Linked DNA regions of Homo sapiens: all the other regions are linked to region 4. Evidence: fine-mapped expression QTL. A gene starts in region 4. Each other region holds a variant in brackets. All regions are shown on one strand. Distances are between the middles of the regions.

Region 1 (5,151 bases), 63 kb before region 4:
AAATTTCACAGAGCAAAGAAAATCAGTAAACACTGATGGCAATAATGGTGATTATTTAGGACCTTAAAAAAAAAAAAAAGTGAGGCCAGATGTGGTGGCTCACGCCTGTAATCCTAGTGCTTTGGGAGGCCAGGGTGGGAGGACTGCCAGAGCCCAGGAATTTGAGACCAGCTTGGGCAACAAAGTGAGACTCCATCTCTACAAAAAATAAAAATATTAGCTGGGCACAGTGGCATGCTCCTGCAGTCCCAGCTGCCTGGGAGGCTGAGGCAGGAAGATCACTTGTGCCCAGGAGTTTGAGGTTACAATGAGCTATGACCATGTCACTGCACTTCAGCCTGGGCAACAGAGCAAGACCATCTTTTTTTTTTTTTAAAAAAAAAGGTAGAAATAACTCCTGACAACAGTAACATGAAAGATGAGGGGTCACAGCTAGAATCCTCTAAGGTCCCTGGTATTGTTTAGGAGAATAGAAATACTGACTCAACTGAAACTGTCGTAAGTTAAAAATGCATGGTAAACATCTATGGGTAACCACTCAACAGAATGAATAACTTTTGAATAAGTACAATAAAAAATAATGGTTACAAAAATTCTACAAAGCAGTAAAGGAGAAAAGAAGGCCAAAGAAAACATATATACACAAAAAAGGTGACAGAAAGTACAGGCATACCTCATCTTTGCTTTATTGCACTTTGTATATATTACAGGTTTTCTTAACTGAGGTCTGTGGCAACTCTGCATTAAGCAACTCTATTGGTACCATTTTTACAACAGCACGTGTTCACTATGTGTTACTGTGTCACATTTTTGTAATTCTCACAATTATAAAATATTTCTCAAAATATTTCAAATTTTTTCACTATTATTATATCTGTTGTGGCGATCTGTGTGTGGTTACTGAACTTTGATGTTACCATTGTAATTGTTTTGAGGTGCCATGAACCACACCTATATAAGACAGCAAACTCAACAAATATTGTCTGTATTTTAGCTGCTCCACAGACTTGCTGTTCCCCCTAACCATCTCTTTCTTCTCTGGCCTCCTTATTTCCTGAGATACAACAATATTGAAATTGGGTTAATAATCCTACAATGGCCTCTAAGTGCTGAAGTGAAAGGAAGAGTAGCATGTCTCTCACTTTACATCAAAAGCTAGAAATGATTAAGCTTAGTGAGGAAGGCAGGTGGAAAGCTGAGACAGGACGAAAGCTGGGCCTCTCGTACCAGGTTAGCCACGTTGTGAATGCAAAGGAAAAGTTACTGAAGGAAATTAAAAGTGCTACTCGTATGAACATAAAAATGATGAGAAAGCATTAGTAGCCTTATTGCTGAAAGTTTGAGTGGTCTAGGTAGAAGATCAAACCAGCCATAACATTCCCTTAAGCCAAAATCTAATCCAGAGCAAGCCACTAACTCACTTCAATTCTGTGAAGCCTGGGAGAGGTGATGAAGCTGCAGAAGAAAAGCTTGAAAATAGCAGAGGATAGCTCATAAGGTTTAAGGGAAGAAGTCATCTCCATAACACAAAAGGGCAAGGTGTAGCAGCAAGTGCTGCTATAGAAGCTGCAGCCAGTTATCTGGAAGATTTAACTAAGATCACTGACGAACATGGCTACACTAAACTGTAGCACATACCACTGCACCTGGGAGCATTTTTATTTTTAATTTATCTTTTTTTTCTTATAAATAGGGTTTTACTCTGTCACCCAGGCTGGAGTGCAGTGGTGTGGTCATAGCTCACCGGAACCTTGAGCTCCTGGGCACAAGCCATCCTCCCACCTCGGCCTCCCAAGTAGCTAGGACAACAAGCTCGAGCCATGCCAGGCTAGTTATAAAATTTTTTGTAGAGAGAGGATCTTGCTATGTTGCCCAGGCTGGTCTCAAACTCCTGGCCTCAAGCAATTCTCCCACCTCGGCCTCTCAAAGTGCTAGGATTACAGATGTACACCATTGTGCCTGGCCAGCATTTTTAAATTTAGGTATGTCTACTGTTTTTTTTTAAGATTTAATGCGATTGCACACTTAATAGACCATAATGTAAACATAACTTTTATATGCACTG[C/G]GAAACCAAAAATGGTATGACTTACTTTATTGCAATACTCATTTTATTGCAGTGATCTGCAACTAATGCTGCAATATCTGAGGTATAAAATAACTATTAACATGCTAAATGAAAATGAATTAAATTTCCCCATTAAAGACAAGAGACTGTCGGATTCAGTCATTAAACCCCTATGCATTTATCTGGTCAAAAAACTTACCATATTTGCATAAGGAGATATGTCTAAGAAGATTCTTGGCACACTGTTAATTGAACAACTTGCATAAACCCACATAGCTGGGCACAGTGGCTCACACCTGTAATCCTAGCACTTTGGGAGGCTGATGTGGGAGGATCACTTTGAGTCCAGGAGTTTGAGATCAGTCCAGGCAACACCGTGAGACAATGTTTCTACCAAAAATAAAAAAATTAGCCAGGCATGGTGGCACATGCCTGTAGTCCCAGCTACTCAGGAGGCTGAGGTGGGAGGATCGCTTAAGGCCAGGAGTTCTAGGCTGCAGTGGGTGAGGTATGATTGTGCCACTGAACTCCAGCCGGGGTAACAGAGCCGGACTCTGTCTCAAAAAACAACAACAAAAAACAATCTAACAACATACATATCCATCCAAAGAAACACTTATAAAATGGTGTAATAAATTCCAACACTGAAATAATACAAAGCAGATAAAATGAATTTCTAATTAACTATAATTAACATAATTATAATTAATGAATTACATCTATACGACTCAAGATGAATTGGTCAAAAATATACTGACTGAAAAAAATCTATTTGAAAAAGAGTTTAATTAGTATACCATTCACGTATGGTTTTTAAAAACTATCTTAGAACGTACTATGTGTTGTCATGTATACATATATATGTAGTAAAAATACATCCAGAGAAAAACTGTACAAATTTCCGAAGAAGTCTGGAAAGGGACTGTACTTTAGATGCATTTTTGTAATGTTTTCTTATTTAAACAAACAAACAAAAATCAAGCATTTGTTAGGTGCACAGATATCATCTATATAATTTTATTTTAAATATTTTCAAATAGTTCCAAAATTACAATTTAAAATAAAAATTGAAAAGGGGAAGAAAGATAAGTTTGGATTTATGCCAAGCCAGATGCATCCATCCAGCTTTTTCAAAATTACAAATTTTTTTCTTTCAAAATTACATTTTAAATGTTCTGAATATTTTAAAGCGCATTCTCTCACACTATTCACAACATATAGTTCTAACTGCAAGGGAGGAAACATACACAGATACTCAAAAAATAATCTTGTCTGTAACCCATGATTTATCTTTGACTACTAAATAACTTGAAAATGTGGTTCCGACATTTGCTTATTTTTGTATTCTAATACTCAGGATCCATTTGGTGGAGTAATCAGGTATAGTAACAGTGGGATGAAGAAGGTGGGGAAAACATTGTTTCATTCTAGCCTAAGCCAGTGAGTGTCAGTGGGGCAAGGATGGGATGCTAAGGGGCACATCATGAGAGTACTTTGAAAGGAATGCATCATAGTCCGTGGGAACAATGGGATAGCCAAAGAGGCTGGGAGAAAAAAAAATTCACTCTCTAGAGTTGAGTCCTCTTCCTTAGTACGCTCATGGCTTCACAGAGGAATTGGATCCTTCCACACAGTCCTCAAAAGTGAGAGGGAGACTGCCAGGCAGAAGTGGGAGTTTTAAGGGGTAGAGCCCAGAAGAATGAAAGAGCCTGGTGTTGCTGGGGTTTGAGTAGAGCTCAGCATAACAGATCGGCTAAGAAAGGCCGGAGTGCCTCCTTCTGAGGAAAGGAGCCAGCCATCCTTTCAACACAGTGTTCCTGGGGAATTCAAAGCCATGTGCACTGCACAACACTGACCCTGTTTTCTGGCAGCTGCTGCTGAGTCGAAGGATCAGTTCGTGAGGCACAGGCAGATCGACGGGGTTGCTCCCTTTTGGACTGTAACAAACACAATTAGATCCTCTCTGCTTAGGGTCTAAGAGGTCTGAGGCACAGCAGGAGAAGAGTAGACACATTGAATGGCTTCACATGAGGACAGAGCATCTGCCTAAGAGGGAAACCACCTGTAACACTCTAACAAAGGAGTTAAAAGTGGCTTTGATAGCTCACTGGATGGGTCAGGGGAAACCTGATCCAACCAGGTAGATAAGGCAGAGTGAGGGAAAGCCACCGTTTGGCACCATGTATGTAGAGGTTCTCAATTTTGGGACTGGAGACAAGAGAAAAGACACATGGATAGTGCAAAAAATCAGGCTTCTCTTCAGAGGACAAATGCCCTGAATCTCGGGTGGCTAAAAGGCGCACAAGATTTTTAAGTTTGCTGTAAGGGCATCGTTTTACAAAGCTAAGTAACTAATGCAAACTAAGTTGTTTCTCTTCTATAACCTGGAATTTCATTTCCGAGCTTTCACCATGGACTGTGATATTAGACAACCCCTAATAAGCAAAAGCAAAAAGGATTGCTATAAAGTCCAATACTTTCAAATTAAAACATACCACTAATTCAAATATGCTCCAAATCAGGGATCTATGACCTTTTTCCTGGAAATAAACACTAAAGTTAATGAGATATAGAAGTAATACCTCTTCTCTCCTTTTAATTTTGTTTCTACCAAGTACACAAACTATGAGCAAGTCTATATTCCTTCTACATTTTAAACTCGGTTTCACAGTTTTAAAACTGGGATTTAGTTATTTTCCTTCTAGTAAATTTAAAGTTTCAGTGACTTCCTTTCATTTCCTTCTGATCATCTCCCTTCTTTCAAGACTTCTTCCTATTGGCCAGATGTAGTGGCTCATGTCTGTAATCTCAGCACTTTGGGAGGCAGAGGTGGGTGGATTGCTTGAGCCTAAGAGTTCAAGACTAGCCTGGACAACATGATGAAACCTTGTCTTTACGAAAAATACAAAACTTAGCTAGACGTGGTGGCATGCTCCTGTAGTCCCAGCCACTTGGGAGGTTGAGGCGGGAGATCAGTTGAGCCCAGGAGGCGAGAAGCAGTGAGCACCACTGCACTCCAGCCTGGGCAACAGAGTGAGACTCTGTCTCAAACAAACAAAAAAACCCCGCTTCTTCCTGTCTCCTTT
Region 2 (5,151 bases), 220 kb before region 4:
TAGAGATGGGGTTTCACTATGTTGGCCAGGCTGGTCTCAAAGCCCTGACCTCAAGTAAGCCACCCACCTTGGCCTCCCAAAGTGCTGGGATTACAGGAGTGAGCCACCATGCCCAACCCCTTTCACATTTTTCTATTTGTATTTTATCTTAACCTTAACAGGTTTGAATCCTTACACTCAGGATTCAATGTAATATCCTGTAACATTTTCTAGGCCCAAGTGTCTTTCTTGCCCTCAGTCAATGCTCACTAAACAGAGCAGATGCCGTTTTGCCTGGCAGAGCAGCCCACATAAGCACAGCACCCAGGATGAGAGCATTCTTAGGTGCTCCGTGAAAATTTGTTGAATGCAATACTCATCTGAAAAAAGTTCCAAAAAGACAACCGGAAAAAAGAAAGAAAAAAATTTTTGAAAAATATAAGAACATATCCAAGAAATAAAAAATATGAATGATTATATTAAAAGCCACTGGCCGGGCGCGGTGGCTCATGCCAGTAATCCCAGCACCTTGGGAGGCTGAGGCAGGTGGATCACAAGGTCAGGAGATGGAGACCATCCTGGCTAAGACAGTGAAACCCCGTCTCTACTAAAAATACAAAAAATTAGCCAGACGTGGTGGCGGGCGCCTGTGGTCCCATCTGCTCAGGATGCTGAAGCAGAAGAATTGCTTGAACCTGGGAGGCAGAGGTTGCAGTGAGCCGAGATCATGCCACTGCCCTCCAGCCTGGGCGACAGAGCGAGACTGTCTCAAAAAAAAAAAAAAAAAGCCTCAGGGCCTTATACAATGAATAAAAAATGAAAAGGCCCATTCAAGCCTTATTGTCATGAAATTTCAAGTAACGAGAAATAATTAAACTATCTGAAAGCTCCTAGAGAGAAAAAGCAGGCCATGTTCAAAGGACCAGAAATCTAAATGATATCCAGACTTCTCAACAGCAGCTCTGAATACTAGAGGACAGTGGACCAGTAACTTCAGATTTTTGAACTTTTTTGAGACAGTCTCACTCTGTTGCCCGGGCTGGAGTGCAGTGGCACGATCTTGGCTCACTGCAACCTCTGCCTCCCAGGTTCAAGCGATTCTTCTGCCTCAGCCTCCCGAGCAGCTGGGACCACAGGCATGGGCCACCACACCTAGCTAATTTCTTTTTTTGTATTTTTAGTAGAGATGGCGTTTGACCACATTGGCCAGGCTGGTCTCAAACTCCTGACCTTGTGATTCACCTGCCTCGGCCTCCCAAATTGCTGGGATTACAGGCAGGCATGAGCCACTGCGCCCAGCCTTTTTTCTTTTTTTTGGACAGAGTTTTGCCCTTGTACCCCAGGCTTGAGTGCAACGGAGCGATCTCGGCTCACTGCAACCTCTACCTCCCAGGTTCAAGTGATTCTCCTGCCTCAGCCTCCCCAGTAGCTGGGCCTACAGGCATGCGCCACTACACCTGGCTAATTTTGTTTTTGTATTTTTAGTAGAGACGGGGTTTCACCATGTTGGCCAGGCTGGTCTCGAACTCCTGACCTCAGGTGATCCACCCACCTTGCCCTCCCAAAGTGCTGGGATTACAGGCGTGAGCCGCTGCACCTGGCCATTTTGTATGAAAATTACTTTCAACCTGCATTTCTAATCTCAGGTAAACTCTGTGCCAAGTCAAAGAACAAAAACAAAAACCAAGTATGTGATTAAGACATTTCCAGGCATTCAAGTGCTCCAAAAATGTATCTCCCATGGATCTTTTCTTAGAGAACTAGTAGGGTGTGTGCTCTACCAAAATGATGAAATACACCCAGAATAAGAAAGACATGAACCCAATCAAGAGGGGAGGAAAGTAAGCCCAAAGATGAAGGAGCAACAGGATCAGACAGCAGCCTGCCCACACTTGTTCAGAGATAAAAGGCTCCAGGAGTTGCTGGGGGCTGGGGATCCCAGAGGGAATTGACTGCAAAAGGCACAGCAGGACTTTTCAGGGGAACTGCCATGTTCTATATCTTGATTTTGGTGAGGTTTCATTGTATACAATGACCACATGTACAGTGTTCAAAACTCTGTAAAATGAGTGGAGTTTTTTGTTTGTTTGTTTTTCGTTTTGAGACGGAGTTTCGCTCTTGTTGCCCAGCCTGAAGCGCAATGGCGCAATCTCGGCTCACCGCAACCTCCACCTCCCCTGTTCAAGTGATTCTCCTGCCTCAGCCTCCTGAGTAGCTGGGATTACAGGCATGTGCCAGCACGTCCGGCTAATTTTGTATTTTTAGTAGAGACGGGGTTTCTCCATGTTGGTCAGGCTGGTCTCAAACTGCCAACCTCAGGTGATCCGCCCATCTCAGCCTCCCAAAGTGCTGGGATTACAGGCATAAGCCACTGTGCCTGGCTGAGTTGTGTTTTATTGTATGTAAACTGTACTTCAATACAACTGATCTTTGTAATTTGCTGGAAGAATGCATGATCTAGGCGGAGAGTGGTGCATATGTCCTAAATCCTAATCTATAGTCAGAAAACAATAGACATATAAAACTAAAAGATGTGTAAGCACATTCTCTAGTAATACAGAGGTAACTACTAGAAATAACTCAAGGAGTTAAAAAGCGGAAACCTCTTGGAGGGGTGGGAATAGGACTTGGGAGTAGAGACAGCTGTTGTTCATAGTAAGCTTTGTGATGCCAGCTGACCTTTAAGCTACGTACATGTTCTTACTTTGATAAATATCAATATAATAGTTTTTTGGATTTTATTTATTTATTTTTATTTTTTTGAGACAGGATCTGGCTCTGTCACGCAGACTGGAGTGCAGTGGCACAATCATGGCTCACTGCAGCCTCAACCTCTTGGGCTATAGCAATCCTCTTGCTTCAGCCTCCC[G/A]AGTAGCTGGGACTACAGGTGCACACCACCACACCCAGCTAATTTTTAAAATATTTTTTAGAGTCTTGCTATGTTACCCAGGCTGGTCTCAAACTCCTAGGCTCAAGCGATCCTCACACCTCGGCCTCCCAAGGTGCTGGAATTAGAGGCATGAGCCATCATGCCTGGCTAAGATTATAGTTTTTGAAAGTGAGAAAAGGTTTGGAATAACAGGATGCCTAGTCTGGTGGAGGTAAAATGTTTGCAATACCCAGAAAGCTTTGGACCAACAGGAGCTAAAGTTTCCTTCAGACAGTTACTGTTTATTTAGCTCTTTCATTTCATTTAGAGTGAGAATAAAGAAATGTATTACAGCAATGAAAATAACAAATTACAGCTACCCTCTTATGGATACAATGTTGAGCAGAAAAGGCAAGATCATAAAAAAATGTACACTAACTAGATGATAGCTAGACTGGTGTGTTCTTATGACAATTGAGCTCTATGCTATGAGCTGTGGATTCTTCTATATGTACATTACACTTCAATTAATTCTTTAAAGTATACCATATGATTCTATTTGTTAGGCTCCCCAAAAAGACCACACGAAACTATAGTTTAGGGATACATACAAAGGTAGTAAAAATGTAAAGAGCCAGTCTAGTGATCACCTTTGGGATACAGGGAGAGGGTTGTGGATGGGATTGAAATCCACAGTAAGGGGAACTTCTGCAGTGCCAGTAGATCCTATTTCTTGGTCCAGATAGTGTTTACACAAGTATTCACTTTACAATTCTGCTAAACTGAATATATAAGGTTTTTATTGATTGATTGATTGAGACTCTGTCATCCAGGCTGGAATGCAGTGGCACAATCATGGCTCACTGATTTGATAAGCATCGACCTCCCTGACTCAAGTGATCCTCCTGCCTCCAAAGTAGCTGAGACTACAGGTCCAAGTAGCTGAGACTACAGGTATGCATGATGACATCCAGCTAATTTTTAATTTTTGGTAGAGACGGGGTCCCGCTATGTTGCCCAGGCTGGTCTTGAACTCCTGGGCTCAAGTGATCCACCCGCCTTTGCCTCCAAAAGTGCTGGGGTTACACGTGTGAGCCACCATGCCTGGCCAATATATAAGTTTTATATATAGTCTTGTCACTTAGACAAATGAATTTAGAAGATTTGAACAAATCTAAATGTTTATCAATAGGGACTATTTAATTATAATAGTCATGTAATGCATAATGCATCATTAAAAATGAAGCAGCTGTGATCCTATATGCTTATAAGAACTTAATGCTCAAATTGGCTCCTAAAACGACAAAAACTATGTTAGAAATGAATCTGATATGATACCACTTATGTCATCTCTCTCTTATATATATATATAAATATATTTTATATATAAAAGATATGTGTGTATTTTATGTAATGTATTTCATACACATTACATATAATTATATATATGCAGAGAACATTTCTAATATCTGGAATAATAGACAAGAAACTAGTCAGTGTTGCAGAGGGGAGACTAGAACTAGGAGACTTCTTTTTTTTCACTTTTGAATTTTGTATCATGTGCATCTGTTACTATTCTAATAAAGGAGAAGGAATAATTTATTTCAAAAATACTTGTTTATTGCATGGTTCTCTCCAGATTTTATGTCTAGGCTTACTTTTATCATAAAGTACTTCAGCAAAGAAGAGAAACTGGCATTCAAACATGGCCGGCCAATCATTGCCAGGCTAATTGCACAAGAGCTTCTCCAAGCAAATATTTCTCACCTATTACAAACCCCACATTGATATAGGTGCCACAAATAATAAATGGGATAAAACAGAAGCCCCTGTGCAAGGGGAAGTCAGTGAGGAAGAGGGAAGGAAACAAGAGGCAAGGAGACCACGCACATCACTAGTGTTTCTCTTCATATGGCAATTTAACATTGCTGTTCTTTGTCTTTATGAAAAATGGGGTTAGGTCAGGTTCCTTGTCATCACAAGTCTCAGAAATCATCTAGAAAACATATATTTTACACACTAGTCTCACAACTAGACAACATATTCAGTACTTCAGTGGTAGAATCTTCAGCTTTTCACACCTTAGGCAGTTCTTCCACCATCTATTTCTGTTTCTTCATTCTCAGTTCCCAAGAAGGCATAGATCAGGTCCTAGATAGGTTAGCATTTCACATGTCTACTCCATTTCATTTGCAACAATGACAATGAAAACCCAGCATGCAATGTGGCTGAGGTGCTGGGAACCCCAAACAATGTGGGGGAAAAAGCAGAGGGCACTTCACACCCCAGACGGGACAGGTTTC
Region 3 (5,151 bases), 110 kb before region 4:
CCGCCCTGGCCTCCCAAAGTGCTGGGATTACAGGCGTGACCCACCGCGCCTGGCCAGGGGCACAAACTTTTATTGTGGTTTCTGTGGGAAGGAATGAGTGAGGGAGGGTAATTGGGCTTTGGATTGAATAGTTTGAATCATTTCAGCAGGCTCTGGGCCATACGGGCTATCCCTAGTTGCCTAGTTCCTACTCCTGGGGTGATTAGGGCAGGTGGATAGTGGCCTGGAGGGTGAGAGCCCATAATGGAGGTGGCAGTGTGTGGGCTCTGGATTGATTGGTTTACATTTGTGACGCACCCTCATGGTTGTTTGCTATTTCTAAAAACTGGCTAGTCCTGGGACAGGCATAAAAATACAAAAATAAAAGACATGGTAAATACATTCTCACAGCATGGTGCTGGCTTTGCCCAGAGTAAGCAATCCAAGAGAGCAAGACAGATGCTGCAAAGTCCTTTATGCTCTCAATTCAGAAGTCACATATTATCCCTGCTGAACTCTACACAGACCAGTCCTAATTCAACATGGGAGTAGACTATGCAAATAAATACCTAAGAGGTGAAGATCACTGGGGGCCATCTTGGAGGCTGGGTATTACACATCTGGCAAGTTCCTTGACCTCCAAATGTCAGTGTCTTCACTTAAAAAAGATGGCAATAATATTATGTTACTTTGACTTCTAAGTTGAAAGCGAACAGAAAGTGACTCTGGCTTGCTTAGGCAAAAGAGGAATTTATTGAATCAGTTTTGGACAATTCACACAATAGAAGGGAAGGCTATAGAACCAGGCTTAGCAGAACCTAAGGGAGCTCAGGGAGCAGGGAAAGTCATGCAGGGCAAAGCCTCAGGGTTGGTCTGGTTGGGAAACTGATGTTGACATCAACTGCACTGGCCACCGGATATTGTGGCCAGAGCTAAATGCTCAGCACCACTGCTGCTGAGCAACTCTCAATCGCCTCTGTGCCCTGAAGCTTCCACAGTGTGGGGAGAGTGGAGAAAGGAGGACCAGGTCCCTTCTGCTTCTGGGATTACAGCATATGTCCGCTACAAATATGGGCTTCATGGGATTCACCAAAAATATATGAGCACCTTCCTTGGAAAATCGAGAATGCTCAGTAATGGTTGGTTGCTTAATAGAAAGGAGAAAGCAGATACCGTGGGATGGAATAGAGTGAGTTTGGAGATCTCAAGTTGAGAGTGAGAATAAAGCATGCTCATTACATTTCCAGCCACACTGAGCATTTCTAATCGCACTCTTACCTTGTCTTCACTCCTATGCACATTTGCAAATTCTTAAATTGCTGAGATTTGTACAAATCTTATCTATATACTCTATCCAGTGAACCAAGTTGGAGGCAAGGGAACAGTATGTTATTAAGAAAAGGTAAAGTGAAAGCCTCCTGTGAAAATTGCAATACTGGCTGGGAGCAGTGGCTCATGCTTGTAATCCCAGCACTTTGGGAGAATGAGGTGGGCAGATTAATTGAGGTCAGGAGTTCAAGACTCCTGCTTGGGCAACATAGTGAAACCATGTCTCTACTAAAAATACAAAAATTAGCCAGGTGTGGTGGCGCACGCCTGTAATCCCAGCTACTCGGGAGACCGAGGCAGGAGAATCGCTTGAGTCCAGGTGGCAAAGGTTGCAGTGAGCTGAGATCACACCACCGCACTCCAGCCTGGGCAGCCGAGTGAGACTCCATCTCAAAGCAAAGCAAAGTGTAGAGAAAAGAAAATTGCAACACTAGCCTCTTGGTACCTTGACATGAACCACAATTAACCACACTCTTTAAGTGGTGGTAGCTTCCATTTCTGTCACTGTTACCTTCATAGTACTTTTTTTTTTTTTTTGAGACAGAGTTGCTCCTTCTGCTCACTGCAACCTCCACCTCCTGGGTTCAAGCGATTCTCCTGCCTCAGCCTCCCGAGTAGCTGGGACTACAGGCACATGCCACCATGCCTGGCTAATTTTTTGTATTTTTAGTAGAGACGGGGTTTCACCGTGTTAACCAGGAAGGTCTCGATCTCCTGACCTCGTGATCCGCCCACCT[C/T]GGCCTCCCAAAGTGCTGGGATTACAGGCGTGAGCCACCACACCTGGCCCCTTTATAGTACTTCTATCTCAGTTTGAATTTCCAAGGCAAAGCCAGACACCTTTTCTCACAAAGCCTGTGCTCTGTTGTTAGGTGTGGGCATGAGTCTTGCTGTTCAAACTCAACTATTTCATTCAAAGTGACCTTTCGTGGGTTTACAAATTCATTGAGGTTGAATGTGTAACTAAATTCTAAAATGTTAGTTCTAAACTAAGTTCTAAAATGGTTCTAAAAAGTTCGTATGTAAGGAGCACCAGGAGGGCTTGCTGAAACACCAGTTGCTGGGCCCCACCCCTGGAGTCTCAGGTTCAGCAGGTCTAGGGCGAGGTCGGAGGATGTGCACTTCTAATACGTTCCCAGGTGGTGCTGAGGCTGCTGGTCTGGGGGCCACATTGAGAAACACTGACTTGAATGACTTGATGCTGTTGCTGGCCTGCTTTGTAAACTTCTTAGACCCTATCCAGTAATTGCCTTTCTTTTCTTTTCTTTTCTCTTTTCTTTTTCTTTTTTTTTTTTTTTGAGACAGAGTTTCACTCTTGTTGCCCAGGGTGGAGTGCAATGGTGATATCTTGGCTCAGTGCAACTTCCGCCTCCTGGGTTCAAGTGATTCTCCTACCTCAGCCTCCAAAGTAGCTGCGATTACAGGCATGTGGCACCACACCTGGCTAATTTTTTTGTATTTTTAGTAGAGACAGGGTTTTACCATGTTGGCCAGGCTGGTCTCGAACTCCTGACCTCAAGTGATCCACCCATCTCAGCCACCGCACCCAGCCAGTAATTGCCATTCATAAAGAAAGCCAAGATGACACCTACAGAGCAAAATTATGTGATATTCAGGAATAAACACTGAAACATTATTTTGATTAGAATAATAGCTGCACGGAACAGAAACTTAGCTATAAGAGCTTAAGCAAATAACAGTTTGTTTTTCTTACATTCCCAAGAAGACTAGAAGCTGTGATAGGCTGGTGAAATGACTTCACCTCATCAGGGGTCAAGGCTCTTGCTAACTTTCTCTTCTGTCATCCTTGGTAAATGATCTTTGTCCTCATGGTCACAAGATGGCTGCTGCATCTCCATGTATTGCCTCTGCACTCTAGGCAGGAAAATGAATGATGAAGAAAAATGCATGTATGAGCTTTTCTGAAAGTCCCTCTAGAGACTTCTGTTCCCATCTCATGGGTTAGAACTATGTCACATGGCCACACCAAGCTTCAAGGGAGCCTCAGCACTCATTGACCCACATAAAATGGGGTTCCCGTCGATGAGAAAGGAAGGAAGAATGGGTGGTAATCAGCAGGCTCTGGGATGCACTCACCTGCTTGACTCCCAAAGGGTCACATTGCGTACTCAGGCCAGAGCCACCTACAGTGCTAAACCAGCCACGCAACAAGTGAAAGGGACAGAGAAAAGACATGAAGCCACTTCTGTACTAGCATTTCTTGCCTCCTGCTAATGGGTGTTATATGAAAAGGGAAAACTGAACTAGAACTTCTTTACTATAGACTTCTGAGAAGTTTTATTAAGCTTATGTATGTGATGACATTCCAAGGCAGGAACAAACATACTGCATTTTCCAAGCTTATTTGACCACAGAGGCTTTTTAAAAATTTTTCTGGAGCATCTCTCTGAACTACATTCCATGGAAATTTTTGCCAGAAAACCTTGATATATACAGTGTCAACTATCAGTGTGTTTTTTAAGACTCCTTACGAGAAAAAAAGCCAAGTATGTTCTTCTTACATCAGTGAGATAGTTCTACTTTTTTTAAGGGGAAGGAAATGAAAATAGGAACAGTTTGTGAGTCAGGGCGGGGGGTGTGATACCAGCCTGCCACCTGAGAACCATGCAACCTTGACAGGCCTGGTGGCCTCCCTAGAGTCTCCTGTGGTTTTTTTTTTTTTTTTTTTCTGTGAGACAGAGTCACCCAGGCTGGAGTGCAGTGGTGCGATCTCGGCTTACTGCAACCTCTGCCTCCCGGGTTCAAGTGATTCTCCTGTCTCAGCCTCCAGACTAGCTGGGATTACAGGTGCGTGCTACCACACCTGGCTGATTTTTGTATTTTTAGTAGAGATGGGGTTTCGCCATGTTGGCCAGGCTTGTCTTGAATTCCTGACCTCAGGTGATCCGCCCCCCCTTGGCCTCCCAAAGTGCTGGGATTACAGACATAATCTACCACGCCCGGCCAGAGTCTTCTGTTCTTACTTGCAAAACAAGATCTGTAGGCAAGCACCAGGATGCATCCCAATAAACCAAAATTCTGCAACTTCACAGCTCCTAGAAAGATCAAGAAGGGATGCCTGAATCAATCTTTGGTAATGGGAGATAGAGGATATATGCCCTCCTGTTGGGCGACAGAGTGAAACCCCGTCTCAAACACTGGAGATGGACTCTCGGGGTTTTGACATGTTGGCCAGGCTGGTCTTGAACTCCTGACCTCAGGTGATCCGCCTGCCTTGGCCTCCCAAAGTGCTGGGAGCACAGGTGTGAGCCACCACACCAGGCCTGGTTCTCCCCTTTTAAGGGCTCATGCATTCTATTAAGCTCACCTAGATAATTTAGGATAATCCCCCCATCTCATCACATCTGCAAAGTCCCCTTTGCCATATAAGGTAACATATCTACAAGTTCTAGGAATTAGGACATGGACATCTTGGGACTCATGGGCATTCTGTCTACCATGCAGATGAAATCTATTGTTTAAAGAAGTATAAACAGTGTTGGGAAACTGAAGACTATAACAAAAAATTCAAATTAGGCTTAATAGTATGTGAGACAAGCAGTACAAAAGGTAGAGAAGGTTTATGTGAGAAAAGAAAAGAAAAAAAAACCCAAGAAAGGAGATCAATTACAATACAAGCAAAAGTAGGACAACACTAGTTACGAGCTGGAAGCACGTGAATCCTTTAAGAGCCCGAGCAAAGGGCAAAGGTTTAGTATGGGATTGTTGGAGTTTCTTTCTATTATATATTGTACCTTCACCAATAGAACTAAAAGTCTAAAATCACACTATTTAAAAACCGAGAATGTATCAGCATTAACCAGATTGATCCTACAGGCGCTGCTT
Region 4 (5,151 bases):
TTGCAAACAGAACATCCAAAAATTAAGGTCTGTAACCAAGAAGAAGCTGTTGATTTCAGGGAATGGGAAGGAAACATTTTCAAACCACCATTTGGCAGACTCAATGCTGGGCTCTCATTTGCATTATCTCTTGAAATCCACAATGATCCTGCCACATAAAATCCCCATGTATAGACAAGGAAATTGAGTCAAGGAGGTGAGGTCAATATCTGAAGTTACAAGATATTTTTCTTGAAAAACATCAAATTTTAGTAAGCCTTCTACTGTCGCTTTTCAGCAAAGTTCTGTACTACATTCTGTAACATTACCTATCTGTAACTATCAATAAAAATTTCCCCTTTGTCTTCAATTAGAAATAGAAACGAAAATGCAAAAAGAGAAACAGTACAGAAAAAGTTCCTGGCAATAAGAAGTTAGAATCTAGGGTAAAAATCTAAAAGGAAAATGAGTAACATTTCCCTTTCAAGTGCAGAGCTTTCCTGGAGAATCCCAGGCAGTGTCTGAGCTACCAGAAAAGTAACCCACTTGTCCCCAATCACAGATGGAAGGCTAAAATGTTTGTCCACGGCCATCTAATGCAAAACCGCCTGTTTCTATCTGTAGATTCTGCACGAAATGCTTTTGGCTGAGACGTGCAAGCAAAACAAGTGCAGACCAACAGGTTATCTGCCAAGCGGTTAGGAGAATGAGTTACAAAACCTGACAAGCAACATCAGCTCTTCCGTACAATTCTATGAAGCACTTCCTGCCACGGGTCCCGCTATTTAAAACAAATTAGGCTGCTCGCTCCCCACAAATCCCATCTAGCACCTCTCGGTTCCTCAGTCTAGCTAATAAACCATGCACTGGATTCTTCCGAAAGAGACCCCCCGCCCCCGACCCCGCCACCTCCGCCACTTTGCATAACTGGCCAAATGCATTCTCCAAATTTGCAATCAAGGAGCTTAATTCACAATTGTGGATGGGGCGGGGGGAACCGCCAAGTGCAAGAACACGGAACGGTTGCAAGACGCAGTTCAGCAAGAACAACTCTTGCTCTAGGCATTGCTCCGTCGACCCGAGGTGGTGGGGTGGGAGAGTCTTACCGGCGTGGAAACAGTAAAAAGGCACTTTTCCTTACAACTCGCAAGACAACACACACTCTAGCTCCCCCGGCGCAGAGCACAACCGCCCCCCCGCCGCGCGCCTCCCTCGCAGCCAACCGCTCCCGCCTCTCCAGGGATCAGGCTCCCAGAAAGGGCCGCCCCGGTCGCCCCCGAGTCCCCGCCCTCTCGCTTTCCCACCAGCCTCATCCCTCCCTGAGTACCAAGGGCTGCCGTTGTCTGGTTTCAATAAAAACTGAAGCGGTCCCGAGCTAGCAGGCTTCCCTCCGAGGGGCGGACGGAAGGTCCGCAGGGTTAACGGAAGCGGAGAGAACAGGACAAAAAGGAAAGGCCGGAGAGTCCCCCCAGCGGCGCCCGGTGCCCGCAGACCCTCGCACAGGCTCTTCGAACTCACCCGGGTTTCGCCGACTCCAAAGAAAGCGCGCTCCCTCCGAGAGCGCTCCCCCGGCTCTCCCGCCGCGCGCTCCGGCCCGCAGGGCGGGAGGACCCAGGCGGACAGATCCATCCCTCCGCGTCTGGTGTGGGCACGGTGTCGTGCCCCGCGGCGCCTGTCAGCGCGCACAGGTGGGACCGCAGCACAGAGAACGCTCCCGAGCGCCCTGCCTCAGCCTCGGCGTGGGGCGAGCCGCCCGCGCCCGCACCCGCACCCCTTTCCCCGCGCCCGAGGAGCCGGGCTGTACCCCGGAGCCGGCGGAGCTGGAGGCCGCGGGCGGAGCGCGGGTTGCCCCGGCAGCTCTTTCTCGGCACCAGGTCCGAGACCTAACGGCAGTTCTCTCTGACCGCTTCCCGGCCGCGCGCTCGCGCGGGTGTCATGGCCGAGCGGCGGCCCCCGACGAAGTTTCCCGGAGCTGACGGCTTTACCTTTTAGCCCAAGGGGCGGCAGCAGCTTTGAGCAGCAGCAAGGCGGCGGCGGCGGAGGGAGCGCGGGTGGCAGCCGGCGCAGAGGCGGATGTAGAAGGAGACACCGGTGGCTAGGACCCGCGCGATGGGAAGAGGAAGGCGCCGGCTATCTACAATCAGAACGTGGGCTGACCGTGACGTCACAATGGCGCGGCCAGCCAATCGGGACCCGAAGGATGAATCAAGCGCTATGATGTCATGCGGCCCGGGAGCCAATCGCGGGACAATAGAACTTTCGTGATCGTAAATTCCAGAATCCGATGCGGTGGAGAGCCTAGGCCGGGGTTGGCCCCTCGGTTCCACGTGTCTCTGGGAAATTTTTTTCCCCTTTCTTCCTAATAAGCCTGCGTGGAACGCAGAGCCTGCGCAATAGCCCCGGTGAAGTTGTCGATGCCCTGAACTCTGGTTTTTTTACTGCCAGGCGTGGCAGGAGTCTGTGGCCGCATTTGGGTGGCAGAAGCCCACCCTCGTTACGGTCTCCTCTATGAGTTATGTCATGCTGAAGGGGATCCACTTCATCGTTAAAGCTGAAAGGGTTAAATGCCCACGGAGACCGCCGGAGTGAAGGTCTGCAGTTGAACAAGATAAAGGAACAAGAACAAAACGACTCAAAACTGTTGTAACCATAACTCCCTTGCAAAGGATTTACCGTGTATTTTTCTTAGGGATTCTGATTTTTCTTTGGAAGCCACTATCAACTCCATTTCTACTCTAGAAATTATTCTAAAGGATTGTTAAATGAGGAAAGATGGAATCAGTGTCTTTTCAGCTAAGCATATTTAAGCACTTAAGACAAAGGGGGTTCAGGGCATAAACGGAAGATCCTTGCTGTTTTTCACTGATATTTGGATAATTAAAGACCTTCATTAGCTTTGTATCCTACTGTTTCCCCATTCAAACCCCAGAGATTTAGCCTTTCTTCGTGTGCCCCTCTTGCTGTATTCTTACTCCTCTATGTGCATCCACCTAACAGTCGGCTATTTAATGTAGGCAAATTTATTCTTTTTTTTCTTTTTTTTTCTTTTTTGAGACAGAGTCTCGCTCTGTTGCCCAGGCTGGAGTGCAGTGGCGCGATCTCAGCTCACTGCAACCTCCACCTTCCGGGTTCAAGCGATTCTCCTGCCTCAGCCTCCCAAGTAGCTGGAATTACAGGCACGCGCCACCACACCCGACTAATTTTTGTATTTTTAGTAGAGATGAGGTTTCGCCATGTTGGCCAGGCTGGTCTCGAACTCCTGACCTCAGGTAATCCGCTCGCCTCAGCTTGCCAAAGTGCTGGGATTACAGACGTGAGTCACCGAGCCTGGCCGGCAAATTTATTCTTTTACATATTTACAATGTAATGCTTATCACGTGCCAGCTGTGTTCCAGGCAGTGGGCCATTGCAATAGGAATGCAAGTATACAAACCATGTACAAATTAAGTAAATTAAACATATACAAAGAATCGAGATTGTCAGTTGCCATTGAGCTCCACAAACACTGAATGACTTCAATTTGCTAGATACTATGTTAGGTATTCAAAATTTGAAACCTTCAAGGACTTCTTGGGCCTGGAAAATGATACAGTCAGGAAGCAACTACAATGCAGAGTGGTAAATGCTGCTATGGACATCAAGGGACATGAGAAAAGCATATGCTGGTGGCATAGACTATTTTTTTGAGATATCTCCTTCATTCTTCACGCTTCTGCCAGTAGTCCAAGGCCAGGGTTCATCTCTGTCATCCCATCTAAGTTTTGCCTTTCCAGGTTTTAAAAGTTTCTAATTTAACTTGAGATTCCAAAAGTCTTAAGTTTTACGCCGCACTTGTTTGAATTGTGCTTACCTATCAATAAAATGTTTTAAGCCCATTTGACCAAAATATCTTTAAGTTCAGGCTTATATAACTGTCAAGCTATGCATTAAATATCAAGTGATTTTTCTTATTGTATGATTAAGTATGACGTTTTGCTGTTTTTTCCCATCCCCCAAAGGCTGCGTTTTTACACAGTTCTTTGTTGATGTGTGTATCTTGGTTTCCATTATAGCATCACCACCCTGTATTGTAGTTGCTTTCTGATGGCATCATCTCACTCAATCCTTGGGGTATATGTACCCCACTTTAAAGACCACCGCTTTAGGTAGTAAACTCCGTTGAAGGGGAAAACATGTTGAATTTTGCTCCTTATTGATCTGTAGATCTTAGTACAATCCCTGGCATATAAGGGCTCAATAAATACGTGTTAGATGAGTGAATCTGTGAACAGTTACTCCCCCTCACCATCACCATCACTTTTCAGCTCCAGAGTTCCAATCCTCTGTCAGATAGTCACATCCCAGGATTATTAGATTATTAACTCCTCTCAAACATGTTGGTACGGTCATGTTCTCATTAGTTCTCCAGCCAGAGACTTAGAGTTCTCAGAACATATATATATATGCAAATGTATTATTTTACATATTACAATGTAATGTTTATCATGTGTCATATATCTCTGGGGGAAACTTCCTCCCACCCTAACAATTACTTCGTATTTCTGCATCATTGCACTCATGAGTAAAGCTGTAAGAAAAACAGTGGAGCCGAAACGACTCCCCAACTTAACTGTGGGATTTTTTCCAAATAAATCAAAAGAATACCTAGGATCCAATGCCAGGCTTACTAAATAACAGGGCTCAAGGAACCTGTTTTAGGTAGCATCAGAATCAGATTCCTGGCCAGCTGGGTTCTGGAAACTGTGCTGAAGCCATCCTTGCCCTTCTAACCCACCTATCCAACAATGTGAGCCCATGTAAGGTACAGTTAACAAAACCTTGTAACTATTACCTGTTTGTTCATAGCATCCACATGGTAGTCCCCCAAGAAATGATTGTTGAATTATCTTCATTCAATAGCTAACTATTAATATTTTCTTCTTTCTCCTTCATGTATTTATTTATTTATTTATTTATTTATTTTTGAGATGGAGTTTCGCTCTTGTTGCTCAGGCTGGGGTGCAATGGCACGATCTTGGCTCATTGCAACCTCCACCTCCCAGGTTCAAGCAATTCTCCTGCCTCAGCCTCCCAAGTAGCTGGGAGCGCCCGCCACCACACCTGGCTAATTTTTTTGTATTTTTAGTAGAGATGGAGTTTCGCCATGTTGGCCAGGCTGGTCTTGAACTCCCG

The links.
Region 1: its variant is fine-mapped to the expression of ELOVL5 in whole blood (TOPMed, PIP above 0.99).
Region 2: its variant is fine-mapped to the expression of ELOVL5 in whole blood (TOPMed, PIP 0.95).
Region 3: its variant is fine-mapped to the expression of ELOVL5 in whole blood (TOPMed, PIP above 0.99).

What each region holds. Positions count from the first base shown.
Region 1 is chr6:53,283,941-53,289,091 of GRCh38, forward strand. All of the region lies in intron 3 of ELOVL5 (ELOVL fatty acid elongase 5), which reads right to left. Among named protein-coding and RNA genes, the nearest start is that of MIR5685, 9.5 kb to the left of the region's middle. The variant C/G (reference allele first, on the strand shown) is at 2,066.
Region 2 is chr6:53,122,515-53,127,665 of GRCh38, forward strand. It overlaps GCM1 (glial cells missing transcription factor 1), which reads right to left. Exons shown (of 6, transcript NM_003643.4): 6 at 4,447-5,151. Among named protein-coding and RNA genes, the nearest start is that of GCM1, 24 kb to the right of the region's middle. The variant G/A (reference allele first, on the strand shown) is at 2,849.
Region 3 is chr6:53,241,252-53,246,402 of GRCh38, forward strand. It overlaps LOC124901332 (a long non-coding RNA gene), which reads right to left. Exons shown (of 4, transcript XR_007059612.1): 2 at 4,290-4,361; 3 at 3,020-3,180; 4 at 2,794-2,893. Among named protein-coding and RNA genes, the nearest start is that of MIR5685, 33 kb to the right of the region's middle. The variant C/T (reference allele first, on the strand shown) is at 2,046.
Region 4 is chr6:53,346,853-53,352,003 of GRCh38, forward strand. ELOVL5 (ELOVL fatty acid elongase 5) reads right to left here and starts at 2,098. Exons shown (of 8, transcript NM_021814.5): 1 at 1,965-2,098. RefSeq lists a silencer at 1,499-1,938.